4 linked regions of the Homo sapiens genome follow. Each later gene encodes a partner of the first gene's protein in a complex. Each region holds a gene or a part of one and is shown in the gene's direction. Other genes may lie near its edges.

Evidence for each region.
Region 2: TMEM231 (region 1) and CC2D2A share a complex: the UniProt entries of both Homo sapiens proteins name them as parts of the tectonic-like complex.
Region 3: TMEM231 (region 1) and B9D2 share a complex: the UniProt entries of both Homo sapiens proteins name them as parts of the tectonic-like complex.
Region 4: TMEM231 (region 1) and TMEM216 share a complex: the UniProt entries of both Homo sapiens proteins name them as parts of the tectonic-like complex.

Annotation. Positions count from the first base shown.
Region 1 is NC_000016.10:75,552,741-75,561,935, reverse strand, and holds the start of TMEM231 (transmembrane protein 231), read left to right. Parts: upstream 1-5,726; coding exon 5,727-5,865; coding exon of another isoform or gene 5,866-5,962; coding exon 5,963-6,132; intron 6,133-9,195. UniProt on the Homo sapiens protein: Transmembrane component of the tectonic-like complex, a complex localized at the transition zone of primary cilia and acting as a barrier that prevents diffusion of transmembrane proteins between the cilia and plasma membranes.
Region 2 is NC_000004.12:15,597,880-15,602,888, forward strand, and holds the end of CC2D2A (coiled-coil and C2 domain-containing protein 2A), read left to right. Parts: intron 1-1,649; coding exon 1,650-1,827; intron 1,828-3,357; coding exon 3,358-3,546; 3' UTR 3,547-3,673; downstream 3,674-5,009. UniProt on the Homo sapiens protein: Component of the tectonic-like complex, a complex localized at the transition zone of primary cilia and acting as a barrier that prevents diffusion of transmembrane proteins between the cilia and plasma membranes.
Region 3 is NC_000019.10:41,360,134-41,369,657, reverse strand, and holds the start of B9D2 (B9 domain-containing protein 2), read left to right. Parts: upstream 1-5,508; 5' UTR 5,509-5,700; exon of another isoform or gene 5,701-5,711; intron 5,712-5,732; exon of another isoform or gene 5,733-5,894; intron 5,895-6,134; 5' UTR 6,135-6,138; coding exon 6,139-6,226; intron 6,227-9,524. UniProt on the Homo sapiens protein: Component of the tectonic-like complex, a complex localized at the transition zone of primary cilia and acting as a barrier that prevents diffusion of transmembrane proteins between the cilia and plasma membranes.
Region 4 is NC_000011.10:61,394,353-61,399,950, forward strand, and holds the end of TMEM216 (transmembrane protein 216), read left to right. Parts: intron 1-3,421; coding exon 3,422-3,623; intron 3,624-3,908; coding exon of another isoform or gene 3,909-3,917; coding exon 3,918-3,924; 3' UTR 3,925-4,494; downstream 4,495-5,598. UniProt on the Homo sapiens protein: Part of the tectonic-like complex which is required for tissue-specific ciliogenesis and may regulate ciliary membrane composition.

The DNA of each region.
Region 1 (9,195 bases):
GAGATCGCCCCACTGCACTCCAGCCTGGGCTACAGAACAAGACTCCATCTCAAAAAAAAAAAAAAAAAAAAAGTGCAGTTTTAAGAGGATGACTCTTTTTGTCCTCAGAAATAAATTGTATGAAAAACAAGAACATTGTGGAAGTGGAAACTGAGAAGTCAGTTATCAGTCATGGGTGTATGGAAATGACACATATACACAGATCTTTAACATTTTTAAATCTATACTTTCTCTTAAAGAATTGAAATAAAACTACAAAACGAGCTTTCTCAAACCATGGAAGCAAAGAGTAAATAGTATCCATTATTACTAAATACTTTTGCAAAGTTCATGGCATCTCAGGGAAGGCTGAAGCACTTGGTACACCTAAATTCTTAGTAGTCACCTCCTTCTGTTTCAGGAGTGACTTTGGTACAGTATCTGTTTCCTTCCATTGAAAGAAGGAGCTTTGGAGGCAAACACTTCCTTCCTCACAGGATAGTGACTCTCAGGAGTCGACCCTAGATCCATCTATTCCAGAAGACCCCTGTGGTTATATAAATAAATGAAAGTCGGCTGGGCGTGGTGGCTCACGTTTGTAATCCCAGCACTTTGGGAGGCCGAGGTGGGCGAATCATGAGGTCAGGAGTTTGAGACCAGCCTGGCCAACATGGTGAAACCCCATCTCTACTAAAAATACAAAAAATTAGCTGGGCGTGGTGGCAGGTGCCTGTAATCCGAGCTACTCAGGAGGCTGAGAGAGGAGAATCGCTTGAACCTGGGAGGCTGAGGTTGCAGTGAGCCGAGATCACACCATTGCACTCCAGCCTGGGCAACAACAGTGAAACTCTCTCTCTCAAAAAAAGAAAGTCATCCACTTAAAGCATAGATATAGTGTGTCAGAATCAAACCATAGATTTAACCTTAACAATTGCTATATTTAAGAACTATGTTGAGGCTCAGTGTGGTGGTCCCAGCACTTCAGGAGGCCGAGGCAGGTGGATCTCTTAAGCCCCAGAATATGAGATCAACCTGCTAGCCTGGGCAACATGGCGAAATCCCATCTCCACCAAAAAAACAAAAACGAACAAAAACCTATGTTGAGGCCAGATACAGTGGCTCACACCCGTAATCCCAGCACTTTGGGATTACTCAAGAAGGATACTTGAGCCCAGGAGTTGGAGACCAGCCTGGGCAACATGACAAGACTTTGTCACTTAAAAACAAAATTTTTTTTTAGATGGAAGCGCCTAGGCTGGAGTGCAGTGGCACGATCTCAGCTCGCTGCAACCTCTACCTCCCGGGTTCAAGTGATTGTCCTGCCTCAGCCAAAAATTTTTTTAAAAATTAGCCGGGAATAGTGGCCTCAGCTATTCAGGAGGCTGAGGCAGGACAAGTACTTGAGCCCAGGAGGTAGACAGAGGGAGACCCTGTATAAAAACAACAACAACAACAAACTACATTGCCACCCCAGAAAAGCTTTTAATCAAGAACAAGTAGTATTGAACCTGATATTTCAAAAGCATTTTGTGGCTGATGACGTTGTCGTCTTGGACTGTAGTAAGGACCCTAGGATGGTTTTCCCAAATGGGCAGTCTTGACCTCTCTATTAAGTCTGTGATGTTAGGATGTCAGCTGTTCTCTTCATCTAAAAGCCACTTCGAGGTTGCTTTCAAAGTAGTGGGAGTAACTACTGGACTCCACCCAGCACAAACCTCACGCCATCTCCTGACACTGCAATGTGATCCTTCAGGGCTTTTTTTTTTTTTTCCCTTTCTTCAGACAGTCTCGCTCTCGCTCTGTCACCCAGGCTAGAGTGCAGTAGTGCAGTCACTGCTTACTGCAACCTCTAACTCTTGGGCTCAAGCAATCCTCCTTTCTTAGCATCCCAAAGTGTTACTGGAAAGGGGTCCCAATCCAGATCCCAAGAAAGGGTTCCTGGCTCTCAACACAGGAAAGAATTTGGGGCAAGTCCACAGAGTAAAAAAAAATGGCTACTCCATAGACAGAGCAGCAGTATGGGCTACTCGACTGAGTAAATTTATAGTTATTTCTTGATCCATATGGTAAACAAAGGGTAGATTATTCCTGACTTTTCCAGGAAAGGGGCAGAGATTTCCCCAGAACTGAGGGTCCCTCCCCTTTTTAGACTATATAGGGTAACTTCCGGACATTGCCGTGGCATTTGTAAATTGTCATGGCACCAGTGGGAGTATCGTTTAGCATGCCAATGCATTACAATGAGCAGATCATGAGCAGTGAGGACGACCAGAGGTCACACTCAAGGCCATCTTGGTTTTGGTGGCTTTTGACTGGCTTTTTTTCTTTTTTCTTTCTTTTTTTTTTTTTTCTCTGAGACAGAGTTTCGTTCTTATCACCCAGGCTGGAGTGCAATGGCGTGATCTCGGCTCACTACAACCTCCGCCTCCCGGGTTCAACTGATTCTCCCTCCTCAGCCTCCAGAGTAGCTGAGACTACAGGTGCCCGCCACCATGCCCAGCTAATTTTTGTATTTTTAGTAGAGACAGGGTTCCAGGCATGAGCCACCATGCCCGGCCTTGGCTGGCTTCTTTTTAACTGCATCCTGTTTTATCCACAGGGTCTCTGTAACCTGTATCTTGTGCCATCCTTCTAGCTCATACTGTGACTAAGAATGCCTTACCTCCTGGGAAGACAGCTCAGTAGGTCCCAGCCTTATTTTACTTAGCCCCTATTCGAGATGGAGTTGCTTTGGTTCAAACACCTCTGACAAAAGTGCTAAGATGAGCCACTTCACCCAGCCTCAACAGCCTCTTGACTGGTCTCCCTGACTTCTGTTTTTCCTCACCCCTCACTCAATGACCCCATCCTGGTATACTGTAAACCTAAAATAAAATTCTAAGCTCCCAACCATCTGAATGGAACCCTTGTCTCAGCCAAGGGCATTCCAAAGTTAACCTGAAAAACTAGTCTGGCCATCATGGGAAGTGGGGAGTCAGACGTAACTCATTATACCCTCCTCTTTTTGGAATTCAGACCCAGCTGACCAGTATTAGCATCAACACATAGATCTTAAGACTGATATTAATAGAACAGACTCTTAAAGTCTGATAAGAAACATTTACAATCTGTTCTCTCTGAAGCCTGGAGGCTTCATCTGCATGATAAAACATTAGACTCCACAACCCCTTATTGTTTTTTGTTTTTGTTTTTTTTTTGAAATGGAGTCTCACTTTGTCACCCAGGCTGAAGTGCAGTGGTATGATCTCGGCTCACTGCAGCTGCTGCCTCCCGGGTTAAAGCAATTCTCCTGCCTCAGCCTCCCAAGTAGCTGGGATTACAGGTGGACACCGCCAGATGCAGCTAATGTTTTTTTTTTTAATACATATTTTTGGTAGAGACAGGGTTTCACCATGTTGGCCAGGCTGGTCTTGAACTCCTGACCTCAAGTGATCTGCCTGCCTTGGCCTCCCAAAGTGTTGGGATTACAGGCGTGAGCCACTGTGCCCCGCCCACAAACCCACACATTCCTTTCTATTGATTCCAGGTCTTTAGATAATAACCAGTTGACAATTGGAAAAATCTCTGAATCTGCCAATTCTGTGGTCTGGAAGCCCCACCCCACCTCCACTTGTCTCATCTTTCAGTACTGAACCAATGTACATCTTACACGTATTGATTGATGTCTTATGTCTCCCTAAATGTATAAACTCAAGTTATACCCTATCCACCTTGGGCGTATGTCATCAGGACCTCCTGAGGCTGTGTCACAGGCATGTCCTTAACCTTGGCAAAATAAATTTCTACGTTGATTGAGACTTGTCTCAGATACATTTTGGTTTACACTACTGACATGCTGTCATTAGAGTGACTTTTCCAAATCACAAAGCTTATCATGTCTTTCCACTTAAATGTCATTTTACTGACCCTTTAACAAATTTACTTATATTTAAATATTTTGTATTTATTTTTTTAGAGACAAGGTCTCCTTCTGTCTCCCAGCCTGGAGTGCAGTAGTGCATTCATGGCTCACTGCAGCCTCCTGGGCTCAAGCCTTCCTCCTGCCCAGGCCTCCCGAGTAGCTGGACCTACAGGCATGAGCCACTGTGCTCAGCCACTCAGGACCTTTTTGTTGTTGTTGTTGTTGTTTGAGATGGAGTCTCGCTGCCACCCAGGCTGGAGTCCAATGTGTGATCTCCGCTCACTGTAATCTGTGCCTCCCGGGTTCAAGCGATTCTCCTGCCTCAGCCTCCAGAGTAGCTGGGATTACAGGTGCCCATCACCATGCCTGGCTAATTTTTGTATTTTTAGTAGAGATGAGGGTTCACCATGTTGGCCAGGCTGGTCTTGAACCCCTGACCTCAGGTGATCCGCCCACCTTGGCCTCCCAAAGTGTTGGGATTACAGGCGTGAGCCACCGTGCCCAGCCATTCAGGGCCATTTGATGAAGAAATTGGCTGTGGACCATAGATTTTTTTAAAAAGTCCTTCTACCATGTTAGAAATATTGGTTGGGGGTGGTGGCGGGGGGGTGTAGGCATTCAATTAAGCAATAAGCCAGTGATCTTTGGGGAGGACCATATATTCCTGTAAAACTCGCGGCTGAGCTGTACCCAACACAGGGTTAACGAAGTGCATCAGAGCTTTGTAGTAATTCCACTCTATCCGTGGAAGAGCCAGGGGATTTGTGTTTCCGTGTCTGTCTTGCATGGGAGCATAGTGGAAGCAACAGAAAATCTGGGGGCAAAAGCACCTGGCTTTGATCTCAGCCCAGGACCAGGTCCAGGACCACGGCCAGGCTTGTGACTGACTGGACTTCAGTAGGAACCACACTGGGGGTTAACAGATGACACAAAAGCAGGTGTTCGTTCTGTGCGGGAGACGCGCTAGGGGAGAAGAAAAGGCACACACACAGTACCTTTAAGGGTAAGCAAGCTTTATCCCACGTAAATGGCAATGCAGATATTATAATAAGCAAATTAATATAATAAGCAGATTGATATAATAAGCAAATTGCAATGGGAAGAGGAGAAGGAAAAAGACATATATATATATATATTTACACTCACCAGACTATGGAGGATTCACCTCCAGACTGGGAAGCAACGACCTGGGCTCCAGAGCCGGCCACTCGTCAGTGCACAGACGAGGAGAGGTCTCATGAAGCTTTTTGGCGTGGTCTGGGACCCTAGATCTTTTTGTAACATGTTGTCTAGCATGAGGCCCAGTCACGAGGGCCCTTTGCGACTGGGCTCAAGGAACACAAAAAGGTCAACTTGTTTTTGCGATTGTTGTTTTTCAATAACTGACGTATAGGAGTAGACTGAAATAGAGATTTCTCCGAAACAGCGCTGGATGAACGCCTCAAGGGGCTCCCACAACCTGTTTAGGGACTTGGTGACCATTGTTTGTGTCCATGTCAGTTGAAATTTAAATATTTAGTTCTTCCTCCTCAGTGTTCAAGTCAACTTTTATGGGCATCTTATTTTACACAAATGTTAACACAGACAACAGCCACGACTCTGGTCCACGGAAACGTTCTATCGCCGCCCAGCCTTTACGCAAACGTACACAGCTCGAAAAGCTAGGCCGACCGTCCCCGGCAGCGCCACGCCCGCTAACCCCGCCCCCGCCACTGGCTCCTTTCGGTGCGGCCTTGCTATTGGCTCCTTTCTGTGAGCCGTCGGTTGCCGTGGAGACCGAGGCGATGGCAACCAGGAGAAGCCAAACTTGGTCCCCCGGCTCGCGGAGTGCCTGCGAGCGGTGCTCATGGCGCTCTATGAGCTCTTCTCTCACCCGGTCGAGCGCAGTTACCGCGCGGGGCTCTGCTCCAAAGCCGCGCTGTTCCTGCTGCTGGCCGCTGCGCTCACGTACATCCCGCCGCTGCTGGTGGCCTTCCGGAGCCACGGTGAGCCTGCCCCGGCCGCTGTGCCACGAGGCTCCCCGGGCGCGCTCGGCCAGGGCCGGCCTCCCTAACCGCCTCCCTACCGCCCTCTTTAACTCAGGGTTTTGGCTGAAGCGGAGCAGCTACGAGGAGCAGCCGACCGTGCGCTTCCAACACCAGGTGCTGCTCGTGGCCCTGCTCGGACCCGAAAGCGACGGGTTCCTCGCCTGGAGCACGTTCCCCGCCTTCAACCGGCTGCAAGGGGATCGCCTGCGCGTCCCGCTCGTTTCGGTGCGTGGTTCCCGCCTGGGCCTGGGGCAGAGTCGGGGATAGGGTGGGGATGGGGACTGGAATGAGGATGTGGGGCGAGCGGCCCCGGCCCTGGGGAGCCCAGCTTTGATCCTAAGGACTCGCGAACCCGCAAAGGTGGCGTTTCATCTCCTAGGACCTAGGGAATCGATCTTCTGTTTCATTCTGCTTCTCCCAGATGTCCCCGGCCCCCAGAAAGTTAGCCATGCTGTCAGCGTGTGCGCCCTGACACAGAGTCCAGAAGTGTGGGGGCAGCCTGTGTCTGCCCGGGTCACACCCGCGGGCCTGGCCTGATGGAGGGTGTTTGTGAAAGTCCATTTAGGAGCCTGGAAGGCCGCGCGCTGTTAATGTAGATAACCCCATTCTGTCGCGGCGTTTCTGCATCACACCACTATAGGAACGGAAAGGGCAGCATTTTTATGCAGACCTGACCCCTGGAAACCAAGGCGCTGATTGGTTAAGCGGCCTTCCCAGAACGCGCTGTGGCCGAGTCACGCCTCCCTGGGTTTGTCCCATTGGAGACTGCGCCATCCTGAAGCTGTCGGGATGAAATGGAAGCATGTTACTGTCTGTAATTTATTTATTTATTTTTAAATTTTTTCACCAGTAGAGCGCTGAGAGGAATCTGTAATTTAGTATTTGCTTTGAGATAAGCGAATGCTTCCTTTGTAGTCACTCCTTTTCACTCATTTTCTGAAAACGTTTTCCTTTAGAAGTATGAAACTTCTGGTTTTCCTTCTTTCAAATTCGAATCTCTTCAGACATATCTAAGATGATTGCCCTACAAGCCAACCTTGTATAGCTGAGGAGAAAAGAAAATCAGACTTGTTCCCAGCAACTAAATAAAATTGTTTTTAAAAATCCGATTGGTCGTATAAATAACTGCAAAAAAAATAGTAATAGGTTGATGCAAAAGTCATTGCGGCTTTTGCCATTAAAAGTAATGACAAAAAACCGGAATTACTTTTGCACCAACCTAATATGATTCAGGTTACTTTTCTCCTATTACTTTATAAATGTTCTTATATTCTGATTACAAAAGTGCATGCTCATTCTAAAATATGATAGAGTTACAGGTAGATATAATGACAGAAATTGAAGGCTCAGTTTTGTATATGTATCAATACTTATTAATCAGCTGTATTCTTTTTGAGGTTTGCTTTGACTTTTTCACTATTAGGGACAACATTTCTTTTTTTCTTTTCTTTTTTCTTTTCTTTTCTTTTTTTTTTTTTTTTTTGAGACACAGTCTTGTTCTGTTGCCCAGGCTGGAGTGCAGTGCTGCAATTCTCTGCTCACTGCAACTCTGCCTCCTGGGTTCAAGCAATTCTCGTGCCTTAGCCTCCCGAGTAGCTGGGATTACAGGCTAATTTTTGGATTTTTAGTAGAGAAGGGGTTTCACTATGTTGGCCAGGCTGGTCTCGAACTCCTGACCTCAGGTGATCCACCCGCCTTGGTCTCCCAAACTGCTGGGATCATAGGTGTCAGCCACTGTGCCCGGCCTAGGGACAATATTTCAATGAACAAGGTTTTGACTAAATCTTATGCCTTTAAACATCAAATTTTGAGGAATTGGAATAGCAGCTCTTTGATGAAATGGTATAAGTACATAGAAAACTAAGCAAATAATTATTAACTGCAGGGAAATGAAAAGTAAGGAAAACTGAGAACCAAAATGTTATCAGAGTTGTGAATAGGATTGACATAGTCTTAATTATATGAACACTGAATGTTTACTAAAAAGAGATTTTAACTCTATTGGGGGTAATGAGAAAGGTATTGGGTATGTGATAGGGGATGGTGGGAGGAATTGGGGGAGAGAAGAAGCTAAATCATCTTTCCTTGTGGGAACTCAATAGAGAATGCCTAAAACTGAGAAACTGAGAATTTTCAATGCAAATGTTATCTCAAGACCTGGAGATACATTTCTAAATGATCAGGTAAATGAGATAAAAATATTTGCCGCCAGAAATGATAGCTCACACCTGTAATCCTAGCACTTTGGAAGGCTGAGGCAGGAGGATTGCTTGAGCCCAGGAGTTCAAGGCCAGTGTGGGCAACATAGCAAGACCCCACATTTCAAAAAAATAAAAAATTAAAAAGAAATAGAGAAGTGGTACAATTTGCCCTAGCTTTTCTTCTTTTCTTTTTTTTTTTTTTTTTTGCAACAGAGTTTCACTCTGTCAGCCAGGCTGGAATGCAGTGGCACAATCTCAGCTCACTGCAACCTCTGCCTTCTGGGTTCAAGCAATCCTCTCGCCTCAGCCTTCCAAGTAGCTGGGACTGCAGGCATGCACCACCACTCCGGGCTAACTTTTTTGTGTTTTTTAGTGGAAACAGGGTTTCACCATGTTGGCCAGGCTGGTCTAGAACTCCTCAACTCTGGTAATACACTCACCTCAGCCTTTCAAAGAGCTGGGATTACAGGTGTGATTACAGGTGTGAGCCACTGCTTTGAAGTGAACAGAGTCTGGACTGGAACTCAGTATTTCTTATGCTATATCTTAAAATCTTAGCCCTTATTGCAACAAACTACTTTTATTTTCTAACTTTGAACATAGAGCCAGACTGACGTCAGTCTATCCAGGAAACTGTCCAGAAGGCAAAGGAAACAGTGGTTGTTGATTAAGGTTGGACCAAGTGCTGGGAGGTGGCTTTGCAGTGGCTAATTGGGGGAAATGCTGAAGTCACAAACAGCCTTGCTTCTGCTTTGGTCAGCTCATCCTGGACAGCGTCTCTAAGCTCCCTACATGTTTAATGCTTTGGAAGTCTAGTTTTTGTTGTTTTTAATGAGAGAAGAGAAAAGCAGAGTGACTTTTTCCCCCTCAAGCCTCAAGGAGGCTGACATAGCTCTTGAAGGCATGTGTGGACCCAGAGAATACAGGGACTGAAGGTTATAGAAGGATTCCAGAGGATGAGTGGAGAGTACCGTGTTTCTAAGACACCTGTTTCTTCTCATCCCTGAAATCAGTGTCTTCCTGTCTGTGGTTATCAACTGTTGGCAAGGAGGCAGGTATGGCATAGTTCTCATTGCTTACACCTGTG
Region 2 (5,009 bases), on another chromosome or scaffold:
AAAATAGAACTTATTCTCCTGGTTTCACAATGTGAAAACTGAGGCTCAGAGAGGTCCACATACTTGTTTAAGTGTTAAAGGGGGCTTCTGAGCCCAGCCCAACCTTTCTGATTTCAAGACATGTGTACTATTTCTACTGTATTAAGCTGTGTGACCCCTCTTGAGGCATTATTACTAGAAAATATCGGTTTACACTCATTTACTCTCAATTTCTCCATAATGCCTTATTCAAGATCCCCAACTAGAACAACTAATCTCCAAACAACCTTTTTGTTTTTTTCTGATAGCTTCAACATGCTATCGATTGGACCCAAGTCATTTATTTCTCCAATATTAAAATGCCTGACAATTCGTCCATACTTTCGTGCGCAGACCATCTTGAAATCCAAAACAAAGATGTGCTAAGCACCAAAAAAGAAATGATCCCTATGACTACTGAACAATGAGAAGCTAGCTAGGTCTCTAAACCCATGCATTTAGTTAGGCAATGTACAAGAGGCTTTAGAATCAGCAGGGTTTCAATTTGAATCCAAGCTCCTTTGCCTTAGTCAAATCACTTATCCTACCTCAAACTGTCCCCTCATCTGTAAAATCAGGACAATATCCCCTACCTCGTAAGGTTATTATTGAGATTAAATAAACATCTACAAAAAGCACTTAGCGCAGTATCTGGTAAATAATGGCCCAATAAATAGTAGCTATCTTCCTTCATTCCATGCTTAAACTTCACACCCTATGAACCCAATACCTGTACTTATCACAAACAGTTTCAATGATGTTGGTATTTTAAAGGCAGTTTTAAGGCAATTTAGAAAAAAATTAATCATCATGGATAGAATTCACTATTCATGATGTGAATAAATCACGAGGCACTAAGAGCTCCACAAATATTTGAGGCTTTCAACATAAGCCCTACTTCTTACGCCTGTGTCTAATTCATCTGTCTGTATATATACTACCAATGAGTATAGTCATAACATTTCAAAAAAACATTTCATGGCCAAGCGCAGTGACTCACACTTGTAATCTCAACACTTTGGGAGGCCAAGGCAGGCGGATCACTTGAGCCCAAGAATTTGAGACCAGCCTGGGCAACATAGCAAGACCTTGTCTCTATAAAAAAGAAAAAAAAATTAGCCAGACATAATGGCATGCACCTGTGGTCCCAGCTACCAAAGAGGCTGAGGTGGGAGGTTCACTTGAGCCCGAGAGTTGAGGATGCAGTGAGCTGTGATTGTACCACTTCAATCCAGCCTGGGCAACAGAGCAAGATCCTGCCTTTAAAAAAAATTAGTAATAATAAACTTTTGCTGCATGTATTGAATTCAGCTATCCCCAAGTCATTCAGTACTCCCTCTTCTGTGTTACATTTCAAGCATCTGTTATAGCTCTTAGGATACACATACTTTCTATTTATAGGACTATTTCCCATCTCAACTCATATACAACCCTTAAGGACAGGACTGCATGTTAATTTTGAATCCCCAGGGAGTAGCCCATTATTAGACATTAACTATGCCTGGATAATCACAACTCCATCAACAAAAATATAGTTATACAATCATCTGAATCCCCACTACATACTACATACATTTTTTAACAAGGGAAAAGTGAGTCACCAAAAAATGGAATTTATGTTTTGTGAACAGGATTGAAAAAATACTAAAAGAAAAAATCATGGACTGGAGGCCACGCCATCTGACTCGGTGGAATAGGTATTGTACCTCTACTCTGCGTCACTTCTTGCCTCTGTTAGAAAAAAGTCAAGGAGAAGATGTAGAAGATGACCACAGAGCAGAACTGCTAAAACAGCTGGGAGACTACAGGGTAAGTTACAAATGGATCCTAAACTGACTGTGGATTTCCTTGTTTCAAATTGGAAATTAGCCAATAATAGGTTTCTGGAATCAAAAGACCCACGTTGCTCCCAGAAGTACATATTTAAAGCAGCATAAACTAAAAACTGTGATCATAAGTTTTAAACCTCAATAATCATGAAATAGCAAAATACCACCATTTTTCATATAAGTATCCCATGAAAAATACCTTTTATGAAATACATTTACGTATCAAAAAAATGAAAACATCTGGCTAAATCATGTTAGACACAACTGTGCATAAGGATCAAAACACTCTAGAGCAGTTTTTTTAAGGATATGGTTTTATACTGATTGCTTTTCATTGCTAAGAAAGGTGGTTATTAATAGACGATATACCCTCTTTACTGCCTGCTGCTATGTTCACATGCTATAGCTGGATAATAAAACCTACAAAGCAGGCTCGTAACTAAAACTTAACAGTAAGCCTTACTAGCTAAACAGTGTGAAGGTCAAATTAGATCACTCACTGAGTAAAATTTATCCTTTAACTTATAAGGCAGGTTCTCAGCCAGGATATTTTCAGTTCAAGTGTCAGAAAACTCAAAAAGGCTTGAGCAATAGAGAATCTACTGGCTTAAGTAAAGCTTAGAGGGTAGCTATCAGGGCTGTCCCACTCTTTTGCAAGTCCTCCCATTCTGCCCTCCTCTTCCGTATGATGGCATCATCCTGAGACTGGGTTTCCTCATGGAAGCAAATGCTGGAACACTTACAGAATTCACATCTGCGCACATACTACCCAAAGCAGGAGAACATCACGTGCCATTATTCCTAACAAGTTTCCCAAGATTCCCTCTGAGACTCCCTTTGATCACTTGCCCATCCCCGTGGATCAATCATTGTAGCCAAGGGGACGAAAATTATTGTCGGGCGCTATGGCTCACACCTGTAACCCCAGCACTTTGGGAGGCTGAGGCAGCGGATCGCTTGAGCCCTGGAGTTCAAGATCAGCCTTGGCAGCATGGCAAAACTCCATCTCTACAAAAAATACAAAAAGTAGCCAGGATGGTGGCACTTGCCTGCAGTCCCAGCTACTCAGGAGGCTAAAGTGGGGGGACCATTTGAGCCCAGCAGGAGGCCGAGGCTGCAGTGGTGAGCCATGATCATGCCACTGCAGTCTAGCATGGACAACAGTCAGACCTGTCTCAAAAAAAAAAAAAAAAAAGAAAAAAGAAATGTATTTGTTAGTTTAACCTATGTATCTGGAATTACAATGGTTACGATGCATACTAGGTACTTTCAAAAAGAGGGAACAGTGATGGAGTGACTAACAGGTGGCTTATACACCTATATGCAAGGAAAACAAAATGGATATTAAGCAGCTCTCGATTTTCTGTATTGCTAATAAAAAGCTGAGTAGAAAAACACAAGCAAATAACTGAGATCCAGAACACTTATCTTAATTGCATACATTTACGTAGGAAAAAATGTATTAAATCTTCAAACTTCACTAATGACTACAAATGTTTTTTCCCTTCAGTTCTCTGGATTTCCTCTTCACATGCCTTATTCTGAAGTGAAGCCTTTAATTGACGCTGTGTATAGTACTGGAGTACATAATATTGATGTTCCTAATGTTGAATTTGCTTTAGCTGTATACATACACCCATACCCCAAAAATGTTTTGTCTGTTTGGATCTATGTTGCCTCTCTTATACGCAACAGGTAATTTTTTTCACTGTACTTTCTGTATCATGTAAAAACTACACTTAGGATATGAGAAAATTTTAAATTATATGCATCACATCAGAAGAACATATTATTGGCAAATAATAAAATTATCAACTGTTTTCAAACTGTGCAAAGTGTTCTATTTAGCAGTCTGCCTTGTGTCTGCTACTTGACCCTGAAATTCAATTGAGACTACCCACAGTACGATATATTATGAGCTTCCTGCCTCTATTCCTTTGTACTTACTTACCTTTTGCTTGGGCAAATATTAACAGCAATGGAATGAAAGTGAGAGAAACTTAACAAGTTTTACCTTAGAGCAAGGTAAAGCTTTAAAGAGAGCATCATTAGAGCCTTTAGAGTTCCTCCTCCTTTGCTGTGTTTAATTCAAATATTAGTTGAAATAAAAAGCAGTAGTGAGTTATATTCCATCAAATGATTCTTCATCTTTAGAAAACACTAAGACAATTTGCCTGAACTGAATGTTTACCAGTTTTTATTGCTACTCCTCCTCCTCTCTCCAAATAAACAAAACAAATAAATATCCAAGACTGCAAGATTACTTCATCTTCCACAGGTTTGCATGTACAGGCATACCTCGGAGATAGTGTGCACTTGGTTCCAGACCATTGCAATAAAGTGAATACTGCAATAAAATGAGTCACACCAATTTTTTTGGTTTCCCAGTGCAAAGTTATGTTTACACTGTATTATAGTGTATTAAGCGTGCAAAAGCATTATCTCAAAAATGTACATACCTTTAATTTAAAAATACTTTATTGTTCAAAAGTGCTAATGATCATCTGAGCCTGCAGTAAGTTGTAATTTTTTGCTGATGGAGGGTCTTGCCTCGATGTTGCTGGCTGATTAGCAACTGGTGGTTGCTGATGGTTGGGGTGGCTGTGAGAATTTCTTAAAATAAGACAACAATGAAGTTTGTTGCATTGACTGACTCTTCCTTTCATGAAAGATTTCTCTGTAGCATGAAATGCTGATAGCATCTTACCCACAGAATCTCTTTCAAAACTGGAATTAATCTTCTCAAACTCTGCCACTGCTTTATCAATTAAGTTTATGTAATATTCTAAATCCTTTGTTGTCATTTGACAAATGTTCACAGCATCTTCGCCAGGAGTAGAGTCCATCTCAATAAACTTTTTTGAGACAGGGTCTTGCTCTGTCGTCCAGGCGGAGTGCAGTGGTGTGATTATGGTTCACTGCAGCCTCAACCTCCTAGGCTCAAGCAATCCTCACACCTCAGTCTCTCAAGTAGCTGGGACTACAGGTACACGCCACCACACTCAGCTAATCTTTTATTTTTTGTAGAGACAGGGTCTCACTATGTTGTCTAGGCTGGTCTTGAGCTCCTGGACACAAGCAATCTTCCTGCCTCCGCCTCCCAAAGTGCCGGGATTACAAGAGTGAGCCACCGCGCCCGACCAAGAAACAAATATTCTTTGC
Region 3 (9,524 bases), on another chromosome or scaffold:
TTTTTTTGTAGTTTTAGGAGGGATGGGGTTTCACCATGTTGGCCAGGCTTGTCTCGAACTCCTGACCTCAAGTGATCTGCCTGCCTCGGCCTCCCAAAGTGCTGGGAATCCAGGCATGAGCCACTGCACCGGGCCTTTTTTTTTTTTTTTTAGAGGTGCAGTCTTACTTTGTTGCCCAGGCTGGAGTGCAGGGTGCCATCATAGCTCACTGCAGCCTGGACTTCCTGCACTCAAGGCATCCTCCGGCTTCAGCCTCCAAAGTAGCCGGGATGGCCAGGCGCGGCCATACATGGCAAAACCCCATCTCTACTAATTAGCTGGGCGTGGCGGCAGGTGCCTTCAATCCCAGCTACTTGGGAGGCTGAGGCAGGAGAATCACTTGAACCCAGGAGGCAGAGGTTGTGGTGAGGAGAGATCACACCATTGCACTCCAGCCTGGGCAACAAGAGTGAAACTCTGTCTCAAAACAACAACAACAACAAAAATGAAGTAGCCGGGACCGCCGGCTGTGTGCCATACTTGGCTTAAAAGCATTTTGTTTTTGAGACAGGGTCTCACTCAGTTGCCCAGGCTGGAGTGCAGTGGCACAATCACAGCTCACTGTAGCCTCCAACTCTCAACCTAAGCGATCCTCCCACCTCCGCCACCAGAGTAGCTGGGACTACAGGGGCATGCCACCACACCCAGCTAATTTTTTGTATTTTTTGTAGTGATGGGGTTTCATCATGTTGTCCAGGCTGCTCTCAAACTCCTGGATTCAAGCAATCTGCCCGCCTTGGCCTCACAAAGTGCTGGGATTACAGGTGTGAGCCACTGTGCCCAGCCCCATATTCTATTGGTTAGAAGCAAATTACAAAAACTAGCCATACTGAAGGGAAGGAGAATTAGGCTCCACTTACTGAAAGGGGGCTGCCCAAGCATTTGTGGATATATTTTAAAACAGCTTCAGGCCGGGCACAGTGGCTCACACCTGTAATCCCAGCACTTTGGGAGGCTGAGTCAGGTGGATCACTTGAGGTCAGGAGTTCAAGACCAGCCTGGCCAACATGGTGAAACCCCGTCTCTACTAAAAATACAAAAATTACCCGGGTGTGGTGGCACATGCCTGTAATCCCAGCTACTTGGGAGGCTGAGGCAGGAGAATTGCTTGAGCCTGGGAGGCAGAAGTTGCTGTGAGCCCTGGCCCACAGAACGAGACTCTGTCTCAAAAAAACCCAATAACCACCCCCCCCAAAAAAAAGGTGACAGGTTTTCACTCTGTCACCCAGGCTGAAGTACCTTGGCATGATCACAGCTCACTGCAGCCTCAAACTCCTGGGCTCAAGGGATCCTCCTGCCTCAGCCTCCTAAGTAGATGGGACTGCAGACATGTGTCACCATGCCCTGCTATTTTTTTTTTAAACGTTTTCGTAGAAATGAGGGTCTCACTACGTTGCCTAGTCTGGTCCAGAACTCCTGGCCTCAAGTGATCCTGTTGCTGTGGCCTCTCAATGTGCTGGGATTACAGACAGCCATGAACCACCAGGCCTGGCCAACTTTCGATAATGTGGTTAGATAATTCAAACTTAAAGCTGTTGGAACTTTAAATTATTCCAAGCCTTGAGAGGAATGTTGCTATGTAGCCTGAGTCACGTAGCATGCAGTTACAACTTCTGCTTTTTCCTGTAAATGATTAAGAATGACCAAGCAGTGCCAGAGATAAGATCACCTCAGAACATTACTCCTAGGCCGGGTGTTGTGGCCTCACATCTGTAACCCCAGCACTTTGGGAGGCAGAGGTGGATCACTTGAGCCCAGGAGTTTGAGACAAGCCTGGGCAACAGAGTGAGACCATGTCTCTACAGAAAAAATTATTGAAAAATTAGCTGGGCATGGTGGCACACGCCTGTAGTCCCAGCTACTGGGGAGGCTTAGGCAGGAGGCTTGAGCCTGGGCGTTCGAGGCTGCAGTGAGCTGTGATTGTGCCACTGCACTCCAGCCTGGGTAACAGAGCAAGATCTGTTTGTTGTTGTTTTGTTTTGTTTTTGAGACTTTGTCTCACTCTTGTCCCCCAGGATGGAGTGCAATGGCACGATCTCAGATCACTGCAACCTCCGCCTCCCAGGTTCAAGTGATTCTCCTGCCTCAGCCTCCCGAGTACTTGGGATTACAGGCGCCCGCCGCCATGCCCAGCTAATTTTTGTATTTTTAGTAGACACGAGGTTTCATCATGTTGGCCAGGCTGGTCTTGAACCCCTGACCTCGTGATTTGCCCGCCTCAACCTCCCAAAGTGCTGGGATTACAGGCGTGAGCCACCGCGCCCAGCCCCAGAGCAAGATCTTATCTCAAGAAAAAAGAAAGGAGAAAGAAAGAAAGAAAGAGTACTCCTCCTCCTATCAGAATGTTAACGCAATCTTCCCTGCAGCATAGCAAGATGTACTAATGAAACTGTTGTAACATATGTACTGGTCCTGTAGCCTGGAATAAACTCTATAGTTAATCATATTTTCCTTTCTTTTCTTTTTTTTCTTTTTTGAGAGTAGAAGTCTGGCTCTGTCGCCCAGGCTGAAGTGCGGTGGCGTGATCTCGGCTCACTGCAACTGCTGCCTCCCAGGTTCAAGTGATGCTCCTGCCTCAGCTTCCCAAATAGCTGACACCACAGGCATGTGCCACCACACCCATCTAGTTTTGGTATTTTTTAGTAGAGACAGGGTTTCGCTATATGTTGGCCAGGCTGGTCTCGAACTCCTGACCTCAGGGTATCCACTCTCCTTGGCCTCCCAAAGTGCTGGGATTACGGGCATGAACCACCGAATCCGGCCTCAATCATATTTTCTGAATCTCATTATTTATAGTTGACGATAATTTATTTTCTTTTATTTAACATGTATACATGGGAGCCTTCAGAATGAAGACCTCAGCCGGGAGCAGTGGCTCATGCCTGTAATCTCAGCACTTTGGGAGGCCAAGGTGGGCAGATCACCTGAGGTCAGGAGTTTGAGACCTGCCTGGCCAACATGGCGAAACCCCGTCTCTACTAAAAATACAAAAATGAGGCAGGAGGTGCCAGCCAGGTTGTGGAGAGCCTTGTCATGCATGATAAGACTTTGGCTTTTACCCTGAGTGAAATGGGGACCACTGGACGGGTCTGAGCAGATGGGACCTGACTTAGGTGTTCACAGGGTTCCAGCTGCATGTGGGGTGCAAACTAGAGGGGTTGGCAAAGGGGACCCCAGAGACAAGGTCCCTGTCATAGTCCAGGTGATAGATGAACTTGGACAGATCAAGGTGCAGGGCGACAAAGAGGTGAGAAGTGGGATTTAGGGTGTATTTCAAAAGTAGAGGCAGTAAGATTTCCTGATGGACAAAATGGGGGCTTGAGAAAAGAGAATGCAAGGCTGGTGCCACCACTAGGGGACCAGGGGCCCCAAGAGCTGAAAGGTTAGAGCTGTCTACCTCACCCACACAGCATCCAGAAATAAATAAATAAATAAATACATTTTCCCCAGCTCCAGCTTAAAGGACAGAAAGATCATTTAAAAGTGAAACCTCTGCCAGGTGCAGAGGCTCACTCCAGCCTGGGCAACAGAGCAAGATTCTGTCTCAAAAAAAAAAAAAAAAAAAAGTAAATAAATAAAATAAAAAAGAAAATACAAAAAGTAGCTGGGCCCAGGCGAGGTGGCTCATGCCTGTAATCCCAGCACTTTGGGAGGCTGAGGCAGAAGGATCACATGAGGCCAGGAGTTCGAGACCAGCCTGACCAACATGGTGGAACTCCATCTCTACTAAAAGCACAAACATTAGCTAGATATAGTGGTGGGTGCCTGCAATCCCAGCTACTAAGGAGGCTGAGACAGAAGAATTGCTTGAACCTGGGAGGCGGAGGTTGTGGTGAGCAGAGATCATGCCACTGCACTCCAGCCTGGGCGACAGAGGGAGACTCTGTCAAAAAAAAAAAAAAAAAAAAAAACCCGGCCGGTCACGGTGGCTAACGCCTGTAATCCCAGCACTTTGGGAGGCTGAGGCGGGTGGACCACCTGAGGTCAGGAGTTTGAGACCGGTCTGGCCAATATGGTGAAAACCCGTCTCTACTAAAAATACAAAAATTAGCTGGGTGTGGTGGTGCACGCCTGTAGTCCCAGCTACTCGGGAGGCTGAGGCAGGAGAATCTCTTGAACCCGGGAGGCAGAGATTGCAGTGAGCTGGGATCGCACCACTGCACTCCAGCCTGGATGACAGGGGGAGACGCCATCTCAAAAAGTAAAAAACCAAAATTATAACGAGGGTACAACATTTCAATAGGATAACATTTATATTAAACAATTCAATGGAATACTTCACTAGTTGATATATGCATTATTAATGGGGTCTCCCTATATTCGAACTTCTGGCCTCAAGAGCTCTTCCCGCCTCAGCCTTCCAAAGGGCTGGGATTACAGTTATGAGCCACCGCGCCTAGCCAATGGTAGCTTGTAAATACTTTGTATCTATTGGCCTGGCTGGGTGGCTCACGCCTGTAATCCCGGCAGTTTGGGAGGGAGAACTGGGAGGATAGCTAGAGCCCAGGAGGTCAAGACAAGACTGGGCAACATAGCAACATAGCAGGACTCCATCTCTTAAAAAAAAAAAAAAGAATTAGCCAGCCGTGGTGGTGCATGTCTGTGATACCAGCTACATGGGAGGCTGAGGTAGGAGGATCCCTTGAACCCAGGAGTTAAGAGGCTGCAATGAGCTGTGATCGAGCCACCGTACTCCAGCCTGGGTGACAGAGTGAGACCCTTTTAAGGAGCCTTGATGGGACCTGATGACTGGCTTGATGTGGGAAATGATGGCATCTAGGATGGCATCCAGGGACAACATCTCCATTTCTTGATTGATAAATCAATCAATAGGAAAGAGGATTTTCTGCAAATAAGGGAATCTTAGTTCCTCATTTCTCTTCGCTACCCCAACCGCTCCTTGCTCAGAATCAAGCAGTAACAGTGAACTTGGTAGTAGCTCCGAGAAGGAAGTTGGACTTATCCAACTTCCTTCCTTCCTTGTCCTTGAGAAACCTAGGGGAACTCTAAAACGGAAGCAGAACCCACTCCCCAACTTCTCCACTCTCTGAATGAGGAGTGATTTTTTTGCTTTGTTTTCCAGTTACAAGGCCGGGGATGTACACGAGGTCCTGGAAGGAATTCCCCCTTGGTCCTGGTTCAATCTCTGATTTGTGATCCCGGACCACAGAGAGCTCTTCGGTGGGGTAGGCGCAGCACGGAGCAGTTAGGGATTTGCTTTTTTGGTAAAGAAGGTATCTGGGAGAAACTGCACTCAAACTTCCTCAGCCACACTCAACATGGCAGCTTCCTAGCCACGCCCAAAATGGCGGAACCCTTTGCCGTAGCTGGAGAGACGCTATTTTCCCAAAATGGAGCGGAGGAGGAAAATGTCCATCACAGCTTCACCCCGCCCCCCGCAGACGGCTAGCACCAATTAGTAGCGCGCAGAGCGAGTACAAAGCTAGGGGAGGAGCCTGCTGTTGCCCCAGCAACAACCACGGAAACCAAGACGAGCGCGGTCGCGGAAGTATCGCGGCTTACATATCTCGCAGCCAGGCGGGTCCTGGGAGAGGCGCGAGCCAGGCCTGGTCGGCGCCCGCGGAGAAAAGAAGCAGTCAAGCCCATGAACTACAACCCCGGTTGCCGCTTTCTCCTCTCCTAACCGTTAAGTGCGCTAAGGTAGGAATGACGCATGCGCTGCGCTTAGAGGCGGGGTTAAGTCGGACCTGAACTCATAACGCATGCGCCTTATGGAGCTTGCTGGGGGAGGGAAGCGGGGTGGCTGGCGTGACGCGGAAGGCGGGTCTTTTGCGCTCGTGGGCGGAGCCATAGCCCCTTCGGGCGGGGCTTTCCGCCGACCTGAACCCGAAAAGGTTATTTTGGACTTCCCAGAGTTAAATGCTGGTTCCCCAGACAAGGGTCCCCCCATTTTTTCCAGGCTTTCATGGGTTGGCAATTAGGATCTGTGGTCAAGACCTCAGCCTCAGGGGTGTGACGAAGCTAGCTTGGAATCCTAGTACTACCCTTTACTTGCTGGGCCTCAGTTTCCCCCCCGTCAAATGGAGATAATACACTTACCTCACAGGGTTGTGATTATATTTTTCCCCTCCCAGGGCCATGGCTGAGGTGCACGTGATCGGGCAGATCATAGGGGCCAGCGGTTTCTCGGAAAGTAGCCTCTTCTGCAAGTGGGGCATTCACACAGGTATTCCCCCAAGCCTGGTTCATTTCCACACCAAGACCCCTAGCCTAGAGGCTACATGCTCCTTCCTCCACCCCTTAACGCAGACTCTTAACCTCATTTCCATCAGTTCTCAGTACTCCAGGCCCAGCCCACACCCTGTCCACATGAGTCTCAAGCTCCCATCTTTGTGTGTGTGAGGGGTGGGATACAGACAGGGTCTCTCTCTGCGCCCGGGCTGGAGTAAGGTGGTGTGATCATAGCTCAGTGCAGCCTCGAACTCTCGGGCTCTAGTGATCCTCCCGCCTCAGCCTCCTGAGAAGCTGGGACTACAGACACGCACCACCAAATCTGGCTAATTTTTTTTATTTTTTGTAGAGACAGGGTCTCGCTATGTTGCCCAGGCTGGTCTCGAACTCCTGCGCTCAAACAGGCCACCCACTTCAGCCTCTCAAAGTGCTAGGATTAAAAACGTGAGCCGCCACGTCCCAGGAAAGTAATTTTGTTCATGCTTCCCCAACTGAGGCCCTATAGAGTCATGGTATAGTGTAATGGTTAGGGTCATGGGCTGCCAGATCTGCATTTAAATATTAACTCCCCCACCTATTAATTGGAGACCTTTGGACTCGACCACTTTGAGCCTCAGTTTCCTTGTTTCAAAGTGAAGCTAATAGTAGCTAAGAAGCAGCACAGGTTTGAGGTTAAGAGCACAGACTGCCTGGGTTCAAAACCAGTTATTGCTTGTTAAGGCACCCTTGGGCTGATTATGTGAACTTGGGCACTTCTCTTCACCTCGACTTCCTTGTTTGTACAATGAGAGTCATAGAAATATTTACCTGTTGAAGTTGTCATGAGTACTAAACGAGTATCAACAGCACTTAGAATAGGAATAGGGCTGGAATAGGAAGTGCTCATTCAGTGTTTGCCTGGCTTATACAAGACTTTGATGGGGTCTTGTTTGTAAAGCCTGGGGTATGTTGTTGCGTGGCACAGATGAATGTCTATGAAACAGATGTGGCCATTTGGCATTATCATGTCTTCAGGCCTGAGTCCTAGTCCCTTTTTTTTTTTTTTTTTTTTTTTTGAGACTCGTTCTGTTTCCCAGGCTGTAGTGCAGTGGTGCAATCTAGCTCAGCCTTCCAGGTTCATGCCATTCTCCTGCCTCAGCCTCCTGCATAGCTGGGACTACAGGCGCTCGCCACCATGCCCGGCTATTTTTTTTTTTTTTGTATTTTTAGTAGAGATGGGGTTTCACTGTGTTAGCCAGGATGGTCTCGATCTCCTGACCTTGTGATCTGCCCATCTCGGCCTCCCAAAGTGCTGGGATTACAGGCGTGAGCCACTGCGCCTGGCCCTTTTTTTTTTTTTTTTTTTTTTGAGACAGAGTCTCACTCTGTAGCCAAGCTAGAGTGCAGTGGCACGATCTCGGCTCACTGCAATCTCTGCCTCCTGGGTTCAAGCGATTCTCCTATGTCAGCCTCCCGAGTGGCTGGGACTACAGGCACCCGCTACCATACCCAGCTAATTTTTGTATTTTTAGTAGAGATGGGGTTTCACCATGTCGGCCAGGCTGGTCTTGAACTCCTGGCCTTAAGTGATCCGCCTGCGTAGGCCTTCCAAAGTGCTGGGATTACAGGCGTGAGCCACTGCGCCTGGCCCTTTTTTTTTTGAGACAGAGTCTCACTCTGTAGCCAAGCTAGAGTGCAGTGGCACGATCTCGGCTCACTGCAATCTCTGCCTCCTGGGTTCAAGCGATTCTCCTATGTCAGCCTCCCGAGTGGCTGGGACTACAGGCACCCGCTACCATACCCAGCTAATTTTTGTATTTTTAGTAGAGATGGGGTTTCACCATGTCGGCCAGGCTGGTCTCGAACTCCTGGCCTTAAGTGATCCGCCTGCGTAGGCCTTCCAAAGTGCTGGGATTACAGGTGTGAGCCACTGCGCCTGGCCCCTGGGTCCTTTTTGATTCTACAGGTAAGTGAGGTGGAAGTTGAAATTCCCAGGAAATCGGAACCCTCCAGCTGATGGATGAGGGGCAGGCTCTGGAGTCAGACTTGGTTTCCAGGTTGGACCACTCACCTTCTCTGTGACCCTGGGCAGAGGCTGTCCCCTCTTGGAGCCTCAGTTTCCTCATTTGTTCTTCATAGGGCTGTTGGGAAATCTTGCTTTTAAGGAGCCTGACGCAGGGCCTGGTGCTTCCCTCAACTCAGCCCAGAAGGGAGTAATGACTAACCTGATTTTTATTATTTCAGGGAGTTGCTGGGGATGTTGATCCAGCCAAGAATACTGAGGCAGTTGGATGAAAGGCTTGGGCTCTGCAGTTAGAGCTGAGTCTGAATCCAGTCCCATGATGGGACCTTGGTCTGCTATAGTCACTGCTATGTCACCAGCATGGAAAACAGTGCTTGGCACATAGCAGGTGCTGAATAAATGTTCATGAACTCACCTTCTCAGAGCCTGTTTCTTTACCTGTTAAATGGGGATTATATTAGCTCCCACCTCCTAGGATCACTTATTTGTCCAAGAAACATTTATTGAGCACCTTCTGTATACCAAGAGCTGGGTTTGTGGTCTTGGGGATCCAGCAGTGTGCAAGGTCCCTGTTTTCCTGGGCCATACAGTAGGGGAGACAGAAAATAAATAAGCAGGCCAGGCGCGGTGGCTCATGCCTGTAATCCCAGCACTTTGGGAGTCCGAGGCGGGCAGATCACCTGAGGTCAGGAGTTTGAGACCAGCCTGGCTAACATGGTAAAACCCCATTTCTACTAAAAATACAAAAAAAATTAGCTGGGCATGGCGGCGTGTGCCTGTAATCCCAGCTACTCGAGAGGCTGAGGCAGGAGAATCGCTTGAACCCAGGAGGCGGAGGTTGCAGTGAGCCGAGATGGTGCCATTGCACTCCAGCTTGGGCAACAAGAGCAAAAGTCTGTCTCAAAAAAAAATAAATAAAATAAAATAAATAAACAGATAAACGAGTGCAGTTGGGTGTGGTGACTCACCCCTGTAATGCCAGCACTTTGGGAGACTGGAGCAGGAGGATCACTTGAGCCCAGGAGTTTGAGACCAGCCTGGGCAACATAGTGAGACCCCCGTCTCTACAAATAAATAAAAAATTAGCAAAGCATAGTGCTGTGTGCCTGTCGTCCCAACTACTTGGGAGGTTGAGGTGGGAGGATTGCTTGATCCTGGGAGGTCAAGGTTGTAGTGAGCTGTGATTGTGCCACTGCACTCCAGCCTGGGTGACAGAGGGAGATCTTGTCTCCCCCCACCCCCCCAAAAAAAGAAAGGAGCACCGTGATTCCAGACAGTGGTAAGTGCTAGG
Region 4 (5,598 bases), on another chromosome or scaffold:
AGGATCTCTGTAGGAGTTTTTTGTTTTTTTTTTTTGAGATGGAGTCTCACTCTGTCCCCAGGCTGGAGTGCAATGGCACGATCTCGGATCACTGCAATCTCTGCCTCCCGGGATCAAGCGATTCTCCTGCCTCAGCCTCCTGAGTAGCTGGGATTACAGGCGTGCACCACTGCTCCCAGCTAATTTTTGTATTTTTAATAGAGACGGGGTTTCACCATGTTGGCCAGGATGGTCTCGATCTCTTGACCTTGTGATCTGCCTGTGTCGGCCTCCCAAGGTGGTGGGATTACAAATGTGGGCCACTGCACCTGGTTGGATTTTTTTTTTTTTTTGAGATGGAGTCTCACTCTGTCACCTGGGCTGGAGTGCAGTGGCACCATCTCGGCTCACTGCAGCCTCCGCCTCCCGGGTTCAAGCAATTCTCCTGCCTCAGCCTCCTGAGTAGCTGGGACTGCAGGCGCCTGCCACCATGCCCGGCAAGTTTTTATATTTTTAGTAGAGATAGAGTTTCACCATGTTGGCTAGGATGGTCTCGATCTCCTGACCTCATGATCCACCCGCCTTGGCCTCCCAAAGTGCTGGGATTATAGGTGTGAGCCATCACACCTGGCCAGATTTTGTTTTTTAAACATTTATTTATTTGAGACAGGGTCTCATTCTGTCACCTAGGCTGTAGTACAGTGGTACGATCATAGCTCACAGCAGCCTTGAAGCCCTGGGCTCAAGCAGTCCTCCAACTTCAGCCTCCTGAGTAGCTGGGACCACAGGTGTGCGACATCATACCTGGCTAATTTTGTGTTTTTTGTAGAGACAGTGTCTTGCCTTGTTGCCCAGGCTGGTCTGAAGCTCCTGGCCTCAAGCAATCTTCCTGCCTTGGCCTCCCCAAGGTGCTGGGATTACAGGCGTGAGCCAACATGCCTGGCCTGTAGGACAAGTTTTATAACCCCAGAAATACAGAGCAAAACCCTTATTTGTTAGAATATGTCATCCCTGAAATCAACGTTAAAGCACAAACTTAGGAACAAAATTACTTGCAACATATAAGAAAGGATAAAAGAAGGCTCACATAAATCACTAAGGAAAAAACAAAATAACTTTAAAAATTGGCTGGGCGCAGTGGCTCACGTCTGTAATCCCAGCACTTTGGGAGGCCGAGGTGGGTGGATCATTTGAGGTGAAGAGTTTGAGACCAGCTTGGCCAACATGGTGGCCGTCTCTACTAAAAATACAAAAATTAGCTGGGTGTGGTGGCGCGCACCTGTAATCCCAGCTACTTGGGAGGCTGAGGCAGTAGAATCGCTTGAACCCAGGAGGCAGAGGTTGCAGTGAGCCAAGATCGCCCACTGCACTCTAGCCTGGGCGACAAAGTGAGACTCAAAAAAAAAAAAAAATTGGTAAGGGACATTAATGGCAGTTCATGTAAAAATAATTACAGAGAACCAGTAAAACTTGACAAGATGCTCAAACTCGCTAATAAAAATCAAATTGAAACAAAGTAACATTTTTTACCCATCAGACTGGCAAAGAAAGATTTATAACACCCAGTATTAGGGTGTGGGGAACAGGTTGTTATACACTTTTGTGGTAATTTAATTTAGTACAACTCTTGGGTAGTAGTTATTACTGTGTAATGTTTTACTGTTAGCCCCAACAATTTCACTTCTAAAACTAGATTAAAAAAAAATTCCACAGATATGCGAAGATAGCTATATGAGAATGTTTATTGCCAAAAATTTGGTAACATCAAAACACTGTAAACAAACTAAACATCTGTCCATACGGGATTGTTAAATCAGTTACGGCACTGATTCAACGGACTTGTATATAACCATTAAAAAAGAACAGTTGCTGGGCATGGTGGCTCACGCCTGTAATCCCAGCACTTTGGGAGGCTGGGGCAGGCAGATCACGAGTTCAGGAGATCGAGACCATCCTGGCCCACATGATGAAACCCCATCTCTACTAAAAATACAAAAATTAGCTGGGTGTGGTGGCACGTGCCTGTAATCCCAGCTACTCGGGAGGGTGAGGCAGGAGAATCACTTGAGCCCGGGAGGCGGAAGTTGCAGTGAGCCGAGATTGCACCACTGCACTCTAGCCTGGCGAGAGAGCTAGACTCTGTCTCAAAAAATTAAAAAAAATTAAAAAGAACAGTTAAGGCCAGGTGCAGTGGCTCACGCCTGTAATCTTAGCACTGTGGGAGGCCGAGGCGAACGGATTGCCTGAGGTCAGGAGTTCGTGACCAGCCTGGCTAACATGGTGAAATCCTGTCTCTACTAAAAAATACGAAAATCAGCTGGGCATGGTGGCGGGCACCTGTAATCCCAGCTACTTGGGAGGCTGAGGCAGGATAATCGCTTGTACCTGGGAGGTGGAGGTTGAAGTGAGCCGAGATCGCTCCATTGCACTCCAGCCTGGGTGACAAGAAACTCCGTCTCAATAAAAAAAAAAAAAAATTAGCTGGGCATAGTGACGTGTACCTATAGTGGGAAGATCCCTTCAGCCCAGGGGTTCGAGGCTGCAGTGAGCTATGATGATGCAATTGCACTCCAGCCTGGGTGACAGAATTAAACACTATCAAAAAAAAAAAAAAATTAAGGTAGCTATGTGTGTGGAAAAATGTTTGTGGGGGAAAAATAAGTTGCAAAACAGGATGTAGGGTATGCTTCTATTTTTATAATAATAAATAGTAATATGTGAATATATACGTATAAAAAATCTGAAACAATACACGTCATTCTCTAATAATCTTCAGGGTGTAGGGACATGGAGGTCTTTCACTTTCTATAGTCTCAAAAATTATTTTCTGTGTTGAAATTTTTTTTTTTTTTTGAGACGGAGTCTTGCTTTGTTCCCCAGGCTGGAGTGCAGTGGCGTGACCTCTGCTCACTGCAAGCTCCACCTTCCGGGTTCACACCATTCTCCTGCCTCAGCCTCCCGAGTAGCTGGGACTACAGGCGCCCGCCACCACGCCCGGCTACTTTTTTTGTATTTTTAGTAGAGATGGGGTTTCACCGTGTTAGCCAGGATGGTCTCCATCTCCTGACCTTGTGATCCACCTGCCTTGGCCTCCCAAAGCGCTGGGATTACAGGTGTGAGCCACTGCACCCGGCCATTGAAAATTTTTAAATGATTATATATTATTTTTATAATTAAAAATTTTGTTTTTCCCAAATAAAGATCCCATTGTCCCTTGAGTGGGAACCAGACTGGAAGCAGGACCTCTGGATTAAGTGACTTTAATCTTGTAGCTCTCCTAAGCCTCAAACTTTTAGTACAGTGGGACCCCATTTATAAATCTGCACACCCCCACTCAGGATTATTTTTTGTGCCTTGCCATTCCATCACATCTCCCACGCCTTTCCCCTGGGCCAGGAAAAGCAGACCATTTGGAGATGACTCCATGGGCTGTGTCTGACAGGTACAAAGGGAAACCTCTGCCAGCGAAAGATGCCGCTCAGTATTAGCGTGGCCTTGACCTTCCCATCTGCCATGATGGCCTCCTATTACCTGCTGCTGCAGACCTACGTACTCCGCCTGGAAGCCATCATGAATGGCATCTTGCTCTTCTTCTGTGGCTCAGAGCTTTTACTTGAGGTGCTCACCTTGGCTGCTTTCTCCAGGTACTGCTGCTGAGGGACCATTTCTCATCACTAGAGGGTTGGGTTCCCATCCCAGGGAGGGATTCAGTATTCTTCTGAAGCCTAAGGGGTCTAGAAGACTTTTTTCTAGAGGGAGGAAGGGGTGGCTATGGGATTGCCTTTCCTGTTTAGGGTAGGTAGATCGTTTCCCACTCAGGGAAGATACTCTCCCTATCCTTTGGGGCCAGGAGGCTTGGAATATAGAACAGTCGAGGCCAGCTGCTCTCATTCACTGGTCTTTTAACATTTTCTTTCTTTCTGCCATCGTATGGACAGGATTTGAAGTACAGAATTTCAGCCAGCAGCCCATCAGGCTGACACCACACATATTGCTTCTGGTACTTTAGCCACACCAGTGAGAATTGGTGGGGCAAGTTGTCCTGAGAAAGGCTGTGTGGCTTTTCTTCAGCACAGACATTTGGGCAAGCAACTCAGCATAAGGCCAGTGGGTACCATCTTCTAAACCAGGACCATCAGCCCAAGAGACTCTTCTACACTCCAGTATAGGGAGGGGCAAGGTTATTCCCATCCTGCCCCTTCTCAGAACCAGTCCCCTGCTGACCTCAAGTTCTCCTCCTTGATCACCGTGGCCAGAGCATCTCGTGTGGACCATCTAGGCTCCTTGGGCTTCAAGCAGGACCTGAGCCACATGCTCCCTGTACGAGCTGTGCTATACCTGTCCCACATGAGCACGGAGAGCCTCATGTTGGTGGGTTTCCAGAGTGATGTGAAAGCCTCTCACCCCAATCCTCGGAGACTGAGTTCCACAACTTTTTTAGTAGCTCATAGTGTTATTTTTCTACTCTCTTCATGAAACTAACTTTATTTTATAATAAATATGTATTTTCTGTTGTGGGGGTTGCAGCCTTTCCTTATGGCACCTGTCCCTAGAATTCATCCACTCCAAGAGAGGGTCATGACTATCCCAGCAGTTTGTTCTCAGGAGCTTTGCTTAGTGATACAGTGTGGACAAAAGGCAGTGATGACCACTGATTTTCTTCCCCAAGCTGCAGCCTAAATTAAACCCTAAATGCACTGCCATCCTCTGTATCTTCAAGTCTCTCGTCATGCAAAAGACTGCTTATTTGCTTCACTCTGCCCCAAAGTCAGCATCTTGTCTCACTCCTCTTACAGATAATTGTTAGCTTTTTTCCAGTGGGCCATGTGAAACTGGAAGAAGCATATTCTAAACTAACTTTTTTTTTTTTTTTAATTTTGGAGACAGTGTCTCAGTCTGTCATCCAGGCTGCAGTGCAGTGGCATGATCTTGGCTCACTGCAACCTCTGCCTCCCTAGCTCACGTGATCCTCCCACATCAGCCTCTCAAGTAGCTGGGACTACAGGCACACACCACCATGCCTGGCTTTTTTTTTTTTTTTTTGAGACGGAGTCTCGCTCTGTCACCTAGACTGGAGTACAGTGGCATGATCTCGGCTCACTGCAACCTCCGCCTCCTGGGTTCAAGTGATTCTTCTGCCTCAGCCTCCCGAGTAGCTGGGAATACAGGTGTGCACCACCATGCCGGGCTAATTTTTTTTTGTATTTTTAGTAGAGACGGGGTTTCACCATGCTGGCCAGGCTGGTCTCAAACTCCTGACCTCGTGGTCTGCCTGCTGGCCTACCAAAGTGCTGGGATTACAGGCATGAGCCACCGTGCCCAGCCCACTAATTTTTGTATTTATTGTAGAGATGGGGTCTTTGTTGCTCAGGCTGGTCTGTAACTCCTGGGCTCAAGCGATCCTCCCGCCTCTACCTCCTAATGTGCTCGGATTATAGGTGTGAGCCACTGCAACCAGCTGATGTTTTTTTTTTTTTTTTTTTGGTCATTTATTTTAGTATTTTGAGGCCTGGCACAGTGGCTTACACTTGTGATCCCAACATTTTGGGAGGCTGAAGCAGGAGGATTGCATGATTCCAGGAATTTGTGACCAGCCTGGGTAATATGGTGAGAACCTTG